Linked DNA regions of Homo sapiens. The protein of the gene in region 1 interacts with the protein of each later gene in a pairwise test. Each region holds a gene or a part of one and is shown on either strand. Other genes may lie near its edges. The genes, in order: GSTM4, IGSF21 and NELFCD.

Evidence for each region.
Region 2: the proteins of GSTM4 (region 1) and IGSF21 interact in a two-hybrid assay, tested with the Homo sapiens proteins (one large-scale study listed by BioGRID and IntAct).
Region 3: the proteins of GSTM4 (region 1) and NELFCD interact in a two-hybrid assay, tested with the Homo sapiens proteins (one large-scale study listed by BioGRID and IntAct).

Annotation. Positions count from the first base shown.
Region 1 is NC_000001.11:109,654,706-109,659,042, forward strand, and holds the start of GSTM4 (glutathione S-transferase Mu 4), read left to right. Parts: upstream 1-1,393; 5' UTR 1,394-1,684; coding exon 1,685-1,720; intron 1,721-2,006; coding exon 2,007-2,082; intron 2,083-2,509; coding exon 2,510-2,574; intron 2,575-2,644; exon of another isoform or gene 2,645-2,830; coding exon of another isoform or gene 2,831-2,884; coding exon 2,885-2,966; intron 2,967-3,066; coding exon 3,067-3,167; intron 3,168-4,108; coding exon 4,109-4,204; intron 4,205-4,294; coding exon 4,295-4,337. UniProt on the Homo sapiens protein: Conjugation of reduced glutathione to a wide number of exogenous and endogenous hydrophobic electrophiles. Catalyzes the conjugation of leukotriene A4 with reduced glutathione (GSH) to form leukotriene C4.
Region 2 is NC_000001.11:18,106,262-18,110,675, reverse strand, and holds the start of IGSF21 (immunoglobulin superfamily member 21 precursor), read right to left. Parts: upstream 2,879-4,414; 5' UTR 2,548-2,878; coding exon 2,478-2,547; intron 1-2,477. UniProt on the Homo sapiens protein: Involved in synaptic inhibition in the brain. Selectively regulates inhibitory presynaptic differentiation through interacting with presynaptic NRXN2.
Region 3 is NC_000020.11:58,993,411-58,995,733, forward strand, and holds the end of NELFCD (negative elongation factor C/D), read left to right. Parts: intron 1-38; coding exon 39-134; intron 135-213; coding exon 214-354; intron 355-699; coding exon 700-829; intron 830-1,231; coding exon 1,232-1,266; 3' UTR 1,267-1,703; downstream 1,704-2,323. Other genes in the region: CTSZ (cathepsin Z preproprotein), read right to left, coding at 2,239-2,323. UniProt on the Homo sapiens protein: Essential component of the NELF complex, a complex that negatively regulates the elongation of transcription by RNA polymerase II.

The DNA.
Region 1 (4,337 bases):
TCCTCGTGGCCACTGTGGCCCCTACTTTGGAGATCCTGCTGGTCCAGTTCTTCCCGCCTTCCGCAGAGCCGTACTCCTCCTTCTGAAGAAGCCACCTGGGACCTGGGCCCCGTCTTCCTGGCTCCTCAGAGTCCTTGCAACAGCAGGCACCGCTTCTCTCTCCTACACTCAACCCCTCTCCCACTCCACTGCCTCTCAGTGTGCAAAAACAGTAAGAAGTGTCCCGTATTTTCAAAATCTCTCCCCTGTAGTTCCCACCTGACTTCTAGTCGTAGGTGGCCAAAGTACAGTGTTTTTGAAGGATTGTTTTATTCCCAGTGCCTGGAATATGGTAGGATCTCAACAACTGTTGTTTCAATAAAGGAATGACCAAATGGGTGAATACTAATGTAACAATATCAATTCTGTTTCTTTCATAATTATTCTCATAAGTGTTAGCTTTCTTAAAAAATCATCTTCACAATTGGACCTAGACATTTTATCTTTCCCAGCTCAAGATGGATAAACTCAGAATGACAGGCCAGGCACCGTGGCTCATGCCTGTAATCCCAGCACTTTGGGAGGCGGAGGCGGGTGGATCACTTGAGACCAGGAGTTCAAGACCAGTCTGGTCAACACGGTGAAATCCCATCTCTACAGAAAATACAAAAAAGTTAGCAGGGCGTCGTGGCGCTCGTCTGTAATCCCAGCTGCTCGGGAGGCTGAGGCAGGAGAATCGCTTGAGCCCGGGAGGCGGAGGTTGCAATGAACCGAGATCGCCCTACTGCACTCCAGCCTGGGCAACACAGCGAGTCCCCGTTCCAAAAAAAAAAAAAAAAAAAAGACTCAGAATGACACATTCTTAATGTCTTAATGTATAATGAGAAGTATAACTATTCAGAAGTCCAAGCACTTGTGTGTGCATGGTGCTATCGTCTTGCTGTAGGCAAACCTACATGGGAATCCACCTTGACACATAGGCCACTTCCTGAGCCTGGACCCAGTCTCAGAGCTGGGGAACTGGCCCAATGCAAAAGGGTCGGGAGCATCTGCAACAGAGACTGAGCTCTATCAGCTTCGGTGACATAGCCTCCATTCACGCTCCCCAACTCAGCAGAGAGAGCACACCATCAGACTTCTAAGACTTAGTAGCCAAGAAGTGTTGAATTAAACTCTCTGAGACCTCTCTTTAGTCTGACCCTGGCAGCCTCAGTCTCCCAGAGCCTGTGGGAACTCGGCAGCCGAGAGGCAGAAGGCTGGGCGACGTCCGGAGAAGAAGAAACGGGGGAAGAACTTTTCTCTTACGATCTGGCTTTACTCTCACGCGCACAGCCGAGTCCCTGGGGACCCAGCAGAGGTCCGAAGCGGAGCGGGGCGGGGCGGGGCTACGGAAGCTGGCGAGGCCGAGCCCCTCCTAGTGCTTCCGGACCTTGCTCCCTGAACACTCGGAGGTGGCGGTGGATCTTACTCCTTCCAGCCAGTGAGGATCCAGCAACCTGCTCCGTGCCTCCCGCGCCTGTTGGTTGGAAGTGACGACCTTGAAGATCGGCCGGTTGGAAGTGACGACCTTGAAGATCGGCGGGCGCAGCGGGGCCGAGGGGGCGGGTCTGGCGCTAGGTCCAGCCCCTGCGTGCCGGGAACCCCAGAGGAGGTCGCAGTTCAGCCCAGCTGAGGCCTGTCTGCAGAATCGACACCAACCAGCATCATGTCCATGACACTGGGGTACTGGGACATCCGCGGGGTGAGTGAGGGTCCGCTGCACTGTGGGACCGGGCGCGTGGGCGGGAAGTGCCGAGCGGCTGGGGACCGGCTCTAGGGACGGTTCCCTCCTTAGGGCTATCTCTCACAGGAGGGCCTGTGCATGCCTGTGTGTGTGTGTGTGTGTGTGTGTGTGTGTGTGTGTGTGCGTGCGCCGGGGTGGGGGGGGGGTGCAGTGCAGTGTAGACTAGGGGCTCACCTGGTGCAGAGAAAGTCACCAAGTCAGGGACCCTCCATCTCTGACACGACCTGCGGGCCATCTCTTCCAGCTGGCCCACGCCATCCGCCTGCTCCTGGAATACACAGACTCAAGCTACGAGGAAAAGAAGTATACGATGGGGGACGGTAATGACACCCTTGTGTCCGGGCTCTGCCCACTCACGCTGAGTTGGCACCAAGCAACCCATGGTGGCCACCTGTGGCTACCTCTGCAGGCCTCCCCTGCTGGAGCTGCAGGCTGTCCCTTCCCTGAGCCCCGGTGAGGGAGTCCTGTGGCCTTGCAAGGCAGAATGCTGGGGCGGGATGCTGGGCCCCCTGTTTAATTGGGTTGGGTGTCCCTCAGAGCTTCCCTAAACCCTGGAAGCCTTAGCCGTGTGGGGTCCAGAGCCCTCAGCGGGATTCTTTGTCCCTGAACCCTGGGATGTGGGACTGAGTGGTCAGATTCTAGATCCACCTGTCTCAGGGATCTTGCCACTGGTTCCTTGGGAGGGTCCCCGGGAAGGAGGGCTGGGCTCTGGGGAGGTTTGTTTTCACTTCTTCTTCCCCACGGCAGCTCCTGACTATGACAGAAGCCAGTGGCTGAATGAAAAATTCAAGCTGGGCCTGGACTTTCCCAATGTAGGTGCAGGGGAAGGGGCGGTTTTGGGGGAAAGTGCGACGTGTCTCTGACTGCATCTCCTCTCCCCAGATTAGAGGTGTTCGGATCAGGAGTCTTCTGCCCAATTCCTCTCACTCCTGGTTGTCTACACAGCCCCTGCATGATGTTCTGTGTCCCAGCTCATTTGTTCATGTGACAGTATTTCTATGTCAGGCCTGCCATGAGCGGGCACAGTGAGTGCCTGGTCTCCCCTCTGCCCTTGCATATGGGAAGGGGATGCTGGGGAGCCTGCTGGCCCAACTGAGCTTCCCCGGTTTCCCATCTATCCAGCTGCCCTACTTGATTGATGGGGCTCACAAGATCACCCAGAGCAACGCCATCCTGTGCTACATTGCCCGCAAGCACAACCTGTGTGAGTGTGGTTGGCTGCAGTGTGTGGGGGGAAGGTGGCATCCTCCTTGGCTGGATTGGGGTGCTATGCTCAGAGTGAGTCTGTGTTTTGTGGGTGGCAGGTGGGGAGACAGAAGAGGAGAAGATTCGTGTGGACATTTTGGAGAACCAGGCTATGGACGTCTCCAATCAGCTGGCCAGAGTCTGCTACAGCCCTGACTTTGTGAGTCCCTCCCTGGTCTGGACCAGAAGCCAGGCTTGTATTCCCATCTACTCTGGTCCTATTCACAATTTGAACTCCTCACTGCTATTGATCCTCTGAGGGTTCCCTGTACTGTAGCAGAGTGACTGTCATATCATTAAACTTATAAAATAAAAACTTGAAATCAGTCCCCACCAATCATAGGAAGTCCTATGAAAGCTAGCAATTCAGTTCCTAGACAATAAAGTCATGCGTTCAGAATTCCCTTCACCTCTGACCCCTGACCTCTGCCACGGGCCATCTAACCCAGCTGGTTCATGCCATCTGCCTGTTCGGGGAATACGCAGACTCACACTATGGGGTAAAGAAGTATGTAGTGGGATGTAATAGCACCCTCCTCTGTGGAATTCCGTGCTATTCTTTTCCTAGTGCTTCTCCTTGACACGCACAGGGATGAATGCATTTTCCTAACAGGCAGCTCAGGGGCGGCCAGAGGGCCTTTGTTCCTCTGTCTCCTTCCATGCAGCCTCTCAAAATCTCATCTCTCCAGAAACTACTCAATGTCCATTGTATTATTCTGCCACTGCACTAGGAGGAACTTTCAACTTCTTTCTCTGAGCTCCTTTAGTTCTTTGTATCCTTGATTTTGCTCATGTCTGGGTCCAGAGCCTGCCAGGTACTCAGGTGCTCCTGGGCTGACCCAGAGGAGGGTGGTTGGGAGGTCAGTGGGGACAGATTCAGGGATAGTGTTGCATTCCTCTCTGCCTTCCCATCACCACAAAAGCCTCCAGCTACCCATTTGGAGTGTAATAAATGCTGGTATGTCCAGCTGAAGCCAGTTCCAGCTGTGGGGAAGATGGCTGCTTGCTCGTGGCCAGCTGGGGCCATACACAGCCCTGGGGAGGCCACATCTGTGCAGGGAGCTTGTGTCTGAGGGTGGTGACAGCTGTTTTCTGCCTCAGGAGAAACTGAAGCCAGAATACTTGGAGGAACTTCCTACAATGATGCAGCACTTCTCACAGTTCCTGGGGAAGAGGCCATGGTTTGTTGGAGACAAGGTAATGGGGGCATGTGATGAGGACACTAGAGATTTGCCATACATCCTACGTTACAGAGATTCCAGCCCACACATTCTTGGCCTTCTGCAGATCACCTTTGTAGATTTCCTCGCCTATGATGTCCTTGACCTCC
Region 2 (4,414 bases), about 92 Mb from region 1:
GCCAGGGCAAGGACTTCCGGCCCAGCCAGTGCGAGGGGCAGCGGCCTCCTTCCTCCTGCCAGACCCGACTCTCTAGCGTCGGGCACCCTTGCTCTGCCACCCAAAGGGGCAGAACCGGCGAGGGCGTTCTGGCCGTGCCCCTCCCCGAGCAGTGACCGCCAGTACGTTCGTGAAGGCCGGCGCGGGTTGCTCCTCTCTGCGCCCTCGGAGGCAGGTGGCCCTGCAAAGCCGCTGCCAGGTGCACCTCTCTCGGCCACCTCCAGGAAGGGCGCCCTCCTCCGGCACAGCCCGCCTCTTGCGTCTCTCACGGACTCTTCTCGCACCCCGCCCCCCATTCTGGGCACAGACTTGGAAGGAGGAAGGAGGGACCCCACCCTCGTGTGCTCTCCTCTGCGGAGAAGAGAGGGCTCCCGGCTGCCTCGGATCTCCCTCTGCGCCCCAGACGCGGAAAGTTTCCCATTCGCGATCCGCGTCTGCGCTCTTCCTTCATCCTGAGCAGCGGAGCTCCGAGGCCGCGCTGGCTGCACCGGCCCAGATGCGCTCACCCTCAGGCACGCCAACCCCCGCCTCCCGCAGCCCGCAGAGGCGGGCAAAGGGATTTGAGGCGTCAGGATGCCGGGTCAGCTCTCTGCAGCCGGGCAGCCAGAAGAACCCTGCTCCCGGGTTCCAGGGAGAGCTCGCAGGGTGGGGTCCTGACGGAGCCAGGGTTTCCCAACAAGCCCTTCTCATCAGTCCTCTCCTTCACCCTGCCGCGTCTCTCTGTTCTGCGCATTCCCAGGGAAAGGGGTGCTTACCTTAGGTCCCCAGCCTCCAACCCCCGCCCCCTGCAATGTCCAGGTGAGGGCTCCAGTGCCTTTCAACAAACCCCAGTGCCCTCTCGGCGGCGCTGGAACGAGGACCTCCCCCATGTAACCTTTCCCTCTAGAGCCCTCCTCCCAAAGTTGAGGGGGGACATTTTGATCCACTTAGGAAAGTCTCTTGTTCCAAGGGTAGGGGAACAAAGTACAGGGTTTGCATTCCTTCTGGGTTACACCAACCCCTCCCCCCTCGCTGTCAGGACCACCTTCCGGGCTCAAATTCTGCAGCTTCTCCCATCAGCAGACCCAGCACTCCCCAAGGACTTCGGGGTAGAAGGAGTTGGGGTTATTTTTAAGGGGGCACCCCTTCCTGGCAGGCACTCTCAGAGCCTAGGTAGGCACCTCCTGCTGGGACAAGGCTATGGCATAGGACAGAGGTGATGCCCACCTCTATCATCCAGTGGGGCTCGGGGTCGAGACCTTATTGATCATAAAGACGACTTTTTGGCACCTCGCGTCCCGCTCCCCTCCGAGGCGGAGCCAGGCTCTGACTCCAGCCAGGCTGAGGTTGGCACCAGGCTCCGAGGAGGATCCCGGACGCGGAGCCTGTAGTCTCGGTGCCTGCGGCTCTTCGCTGGTCCCGCCTCCCTCCCTCCTGGCTTTTAGCCTCACGTTGGCTCTCTGCTCACTGCGCGAAAGGGTTCAGCTCCATTTAAGACCCACTACGCGGCGGCACTGGGTGGGAGGCCGGCCGCGGACCCTGGGGCTGCGGAGCCACCTCTCACTGGCTCCGGAGAACCCGCTCGGCTTCAACCTCCTTCTAGCTGTCTTAGCCTAACCCGGGAGCAAGTCCACACGGCGGGACACACACACACACACACACACACACACACTGAGCTGCTCACAACTCCCCAGCCCCGGAAGCGTCCATACCTCCCTGCACACGATAACCACACGCTCCATGGCACGCATACACACACTCCCAGCCCCATGAAGCCCACGACTCCCAGGCACCTGCACCCCCACCCATCCCACATAAGCAGACTCTTGTCCAGTGTCACAGTCCCATCTCCTGTGCACACAGAAATAGTAATCCGCTGTCGTACACCCCTAGAGACCTGCACACTCGGGACACACGTGAAACGCCAAACCTCACATACCCACCCCCTAACACCTCACACCCACAGTGACACAAGCTCACACACTTCACACCCTCACAGGGAAGGTGGCACATGTTCACACCCTCCCCCCAACATTCGCTCACACTCTCACACACACACCTTCTCCATGTAACTGACACAGACACTCTAACACCCATCCAGACCCTCGCTCACTCACACGCAGACCCCACACCATCACACACACACGCACACACACACTTGCATCTCTAAATACACTCCCGCACCTTCTGCCCACACAGCTCCTTCCCGGACACCCTCACCCAGACACACAACAAAGACACACAATTTACACACACACACACACCCTGGCACAAATCCATGAGCGCTCTCCAAGAGGCGTCCTCCCTCCCTCATCGAGCCAACCAGCTCCACAGACCCCGGGCAGGACCGGTGCTCGTAGCCCGAGCCTCTCGGAGCGACCCCGGCCAGCGCCCTCCCCCGGCACCCCGTCCCCGCGCACGTTCACCGCTCGGCTCCCGCCAGGCGCCCGCGCACTCACCGCGCGCCAGGTCCAGGATCGCGGCGAGCAGCAGGCAGACGCAGCGGCGGAGGCTCGGGGCGGTTCGCATGGTGCCCGGGAGCTGGCGGCGGTGGCGGGGCGGCGGGGGTGGAGGCGGTGGCGGCGGGTCCCCTCGCCATGGGCTCAGACGCGCTCCTGCCTCCGGCCACTGGCCGAGGCGGTGGCGGGCAGCGCGGAGAGCCGCGGGGGCGCCCCCATGCCGCCGCGGCCAGGCAGCCCGGGCGCCCGGCTCGACTCGGCTCCGGCTCTGCGAGGCGCAGCGACCCTCGCGCTCTGGGCGTCCTCGGGGCTCGCCGCGGTTCTCGGCTCCCTAGCTGCGCGCGGTGCCCACCGCGGCCCAGAGTCCGATCGGCTGCAGCGCCGGAGTTTGGAGCCGAATCGCGCTCTCTGCCTCGCGCTCGCCTCTCCCGGCGGCGCGAGCACCCCCCTCCTCTCGCCCTCCCTCCGTCCCTCCCCCTCTCCCCGCCCCCCCGCCCTCCTTGCCCTCCCCTCGCCGCGCTCTCCGCGTATTATACAGACTTTTCTTTAATCCTTTCTGGGCTGTTCGGCTCTCGTCCGCTAAGCCGATTTATTGCAGGGAGAAGGAGAGCTCACCCCCTCCTAACCTCCCCTCTCCCCTCACTCAGGTCCCCCCTCACTCAAAACTGGCTTGCTGCCTCCAGCTTCTTAACCCTTACCCAGGTGACCCAACACCCCGCCCTGGAAGCTATGCTCCATCGGATCCGCCTTTACCTAGCCCCTCCTATCCCCGGGATTACCATCGCCCTCCCCGCTACTCAGCCTGATGAAAGGAGGCAGCCTCCCTCCCGAGAGGGAAAGATGCCATCCTGGGAGCAGGGCAGGCAGGGTGTGGCTCTGGAGTTCTGACCTTGCCAACGATGAATGCCCTCATTGGGCAAGATTAAGGGGTTTCCATGTTCTGAAACTTCCCCAATTACGGCTGCTCCTTCCCCCAGGGACCCACGGAAATGGGGTGTGTTCTGTCTTTTTCCCATGTGCTAGGATCCAGCCAGGAAGGGTGAGGAACTGATTGTTTCCTCCTGGCAGAGACCAAGTTTCCACCTTTTTGCCAGACCTGACAGCTTTTCTTCCCAGGTCCGAGAAGAACAGGTTTGGGACTTGTATGTTACCATTACTCTCCCACCAACACACACGCGAGCACACACACACACACACACACACACACACACACACCATTGAGCCTCAGCCCTGGCGGTGGACTTTGAGGCCTCCTGCGAGGATGAAGGGGAGGGGTACTCTAGCCCTTGGAGTGGACTGGGGATGTGGTTAGATGAGGAAGTTCAGGAGATAGAATTTCACCATTGGTAGGGACCCAGAAGATTGGCAAAGCCCAGAAAAACCAGCACGACCAGGGGCAAAACCTGCTCAGAACTCAGGTGGGTCCCTTTACCCAGGCCTTCTATGGAGAATCTCCAGCTTCCCTAGCTCTGGCAGGTTGCTGAGTCAGGCTGTTGCATCGTTTACCTACATGGGCAATGGGTCTATAGCCAGTTCCATCTCCAGCAGCCCTCTGAGAGGAGTGTAGGGAGTGGGGTGGGCAATGGGTGGTTGCTGGGCTGCCTCTGGGTGAGCTTTGTGCAGAGATGTCCATGAAAGTGAACTGCTCCCTCCTCCTGCCCTCTGGAACCTCACCCCATCGCCTCCCAAGGCAGCTCTGCGGCTCAGCTTGCTCACCCACCCCAGAAGGAGCGATTTGCATTTATGAAGATCTGAAAGCATACGTTCACCTGACAGGCTTTAGAATGATCCTCTCAGTAAAATAATAATAATGATCATAATAAACCCTTATAAATAGGTGTTTGATTACAGTTTGTCCCTAAGTGGGATTTTTTTTTTTTTTTTTTTTTTTTTTTTTTGTGAATCAGACTAATTGGTTCCAGGTTGATTGGACTGCA
Region 3 (2,323 bases), on another chromosome or scaffold:
CACACTGCTCAGCGAAGCTCCCTCTGGCCTGTTTGTAGATCAGCACCTGCCACCAGCTCCTGCACCCCCAGGTCCTGCAGCTGCTTGTTAAGCTTTTTGAGACTGAGCACTCCCAGCTGGACGTGATGGAGCAGGTGAGCAGTGCCCGTGGGGCTTGCCAGAGGGCTGAGGAGGACCCTCTCTAACCAGCTCCCTGTCCCCCTTCTTCTGTAGCTTGAGTTGAAGAAGACACTGCTGGACAGGATGGTTCACCTGCTGAGTCGAGGTTATGTACTTCCTGTTGTCAGTTACATCCGAAAGTGTCTGGAGAAGCTGGACACTGACATTTCACTCATTCGCTATTTTGTCACTGAGGTCAGCAATGCACCGTTGGTTTCATGTTTCATACTGTTTACACTAGCACTGCCCTTTTTGGCTTAATTTAGTTCATTTTGTACCTAACTGAGAACTGTGCTTTCTGATGTAGTGATGACAATGACAGATACTCGTTTACCAAAAAGCACCTTCTGCCTGCAGCAGCTGTATGACACACTTTACCTCCATTACCACCCTGGGCATCTGAATGTTGGAGATGGGTGGTGTCACCGGCCGGTGGGGGTGGGGAGGGATTTTTTCCAAACTGATGGCCATTTCACCCGGATGTCGGTGGATGCCCCGCACTAGTGTGCGGAAGAAGTCACCCTGTGCTCCCCCACGCAGGTGCTGGACGTCATTGCTCCTCCTTATACCTCTGACTTCGTGCAACTTTTCCTCCCCATCCTGGAGAATGACAGCATCGCAGGTACCATCAAAACGGAAGGCGAGCATGACCCTGTGACGGAGTTTATAGGTGAGGCCGACTGCCTAGCCCTTTACTACAATAGAAAATGTCAGCTGGGCGCGGTGGCTCATGCCTGTAATCCCAGCACTTTGGGAGGCCAAGGTGGGTGGATCACCTGAGGTTGGGAGTTCAAGACCAGCCCGACCAACATGGAGAAACCCCATCTCTACTAAAAATACAGCATTAGCTGGGCATGGTGGCACGTGCCTGTAATCCTAGCTACTCGGGAGGCTGAGGCAGGAGAATCGCTTAACCTGGGAGGCAGAGGTTGCAGTGAGCCAAGATCGCGCCATTGCACTCTATCCTGGGCAACAAGAGCAAAACTGCATCTCAAAAAAAAAAAAAAAAAAGAAAGAAAATGTCATGTTCTACTTCCTGTTTCTAACACAGTCACTGTTTTCCTCGTTAAAGCTCACTGCAAATCTAACTTCATCATGGTGAACTAATTTAGAGCATCCTCCAGAGCTGAAGCAGAACATTCCAGAACCCGTTGTGGAAAAACCCTTTCAAGAAGCTGTTTTAAGAGGCTCGGGCAGCGTCTTGAAAATGGGCACCGCTGGGAGGAGGTGGATGACTTCTTTACAAAGGAAAATGGTAGCAGCTTCAGTGAGAAACTGCCCTTACAAACAGTCCCTTCTCTGCTGTCAATCCAATACTGCTCCCAAATCCTGTTTTCAGTGTTCATTTCCCTCAAGGCAGGCGCTGGGCTCCCACGACCCCTCAGGACAGATCTGGCCGTCAGCCGCGGGCCGCTGGGAACTCCACTCGGGGAACTCCTTTCCAAGCTGACCTCAGTTTTCTCACAAGAACCCAGTTAGCTGATGTTTTATTGTAATTGTCTTAATTTGCTAAGAACAAGTAATAAGTAAATTTTTAAAAAGCCTTTCTGCTGGGTTGGATTAAGTCCTGATGTGACATTGTTTTTGTGTGCGAATAAGGCACGGGCAGCCTCAGTCTCGTGCAGAGCCAGATACTTTATTCATCACTTGGGCGATTTGAAACTGCCAACTCCCTCCCTCCCTCCCCCACCCTTGATTCTAAAGTGACATAAGAATGGTGATAAGTCTGAACTCTTTCACCTCTTAAATGCCATATTATTGCCCACAGTTGCCAAATACAAAATATCAAGTCCTCTGCTGAAGAAGACTGAGGTCCCATCGTTTCCTGTGTCGCAGGTCACTTCTTCACCAGGTGGCTGACTGCATCATTGTGAGGCAGAGCCATGCTGTGCAAGTGTCATAAGTCATCCCACTTTCAACTCTCAGGAACACTCGCAGCCAGTGCCACGCTGTCCTCGCCATCCAATATTGATAGCCACCCCAGTTCCTGCCAGCCAGCCTGGCACACATAACCATAGGATCCCCTCTGGTCATGGGTCACCATGCCTTTTCTTAAACTGCGCTTCTAGTGACATGGCCTTAAACGATGGGGTCCCCAAATGTACAGTGCTCCTCGATGGCAAGGTTGTATCTGGCGCCCTTCCCATCCTTATAGGTGCTGGTC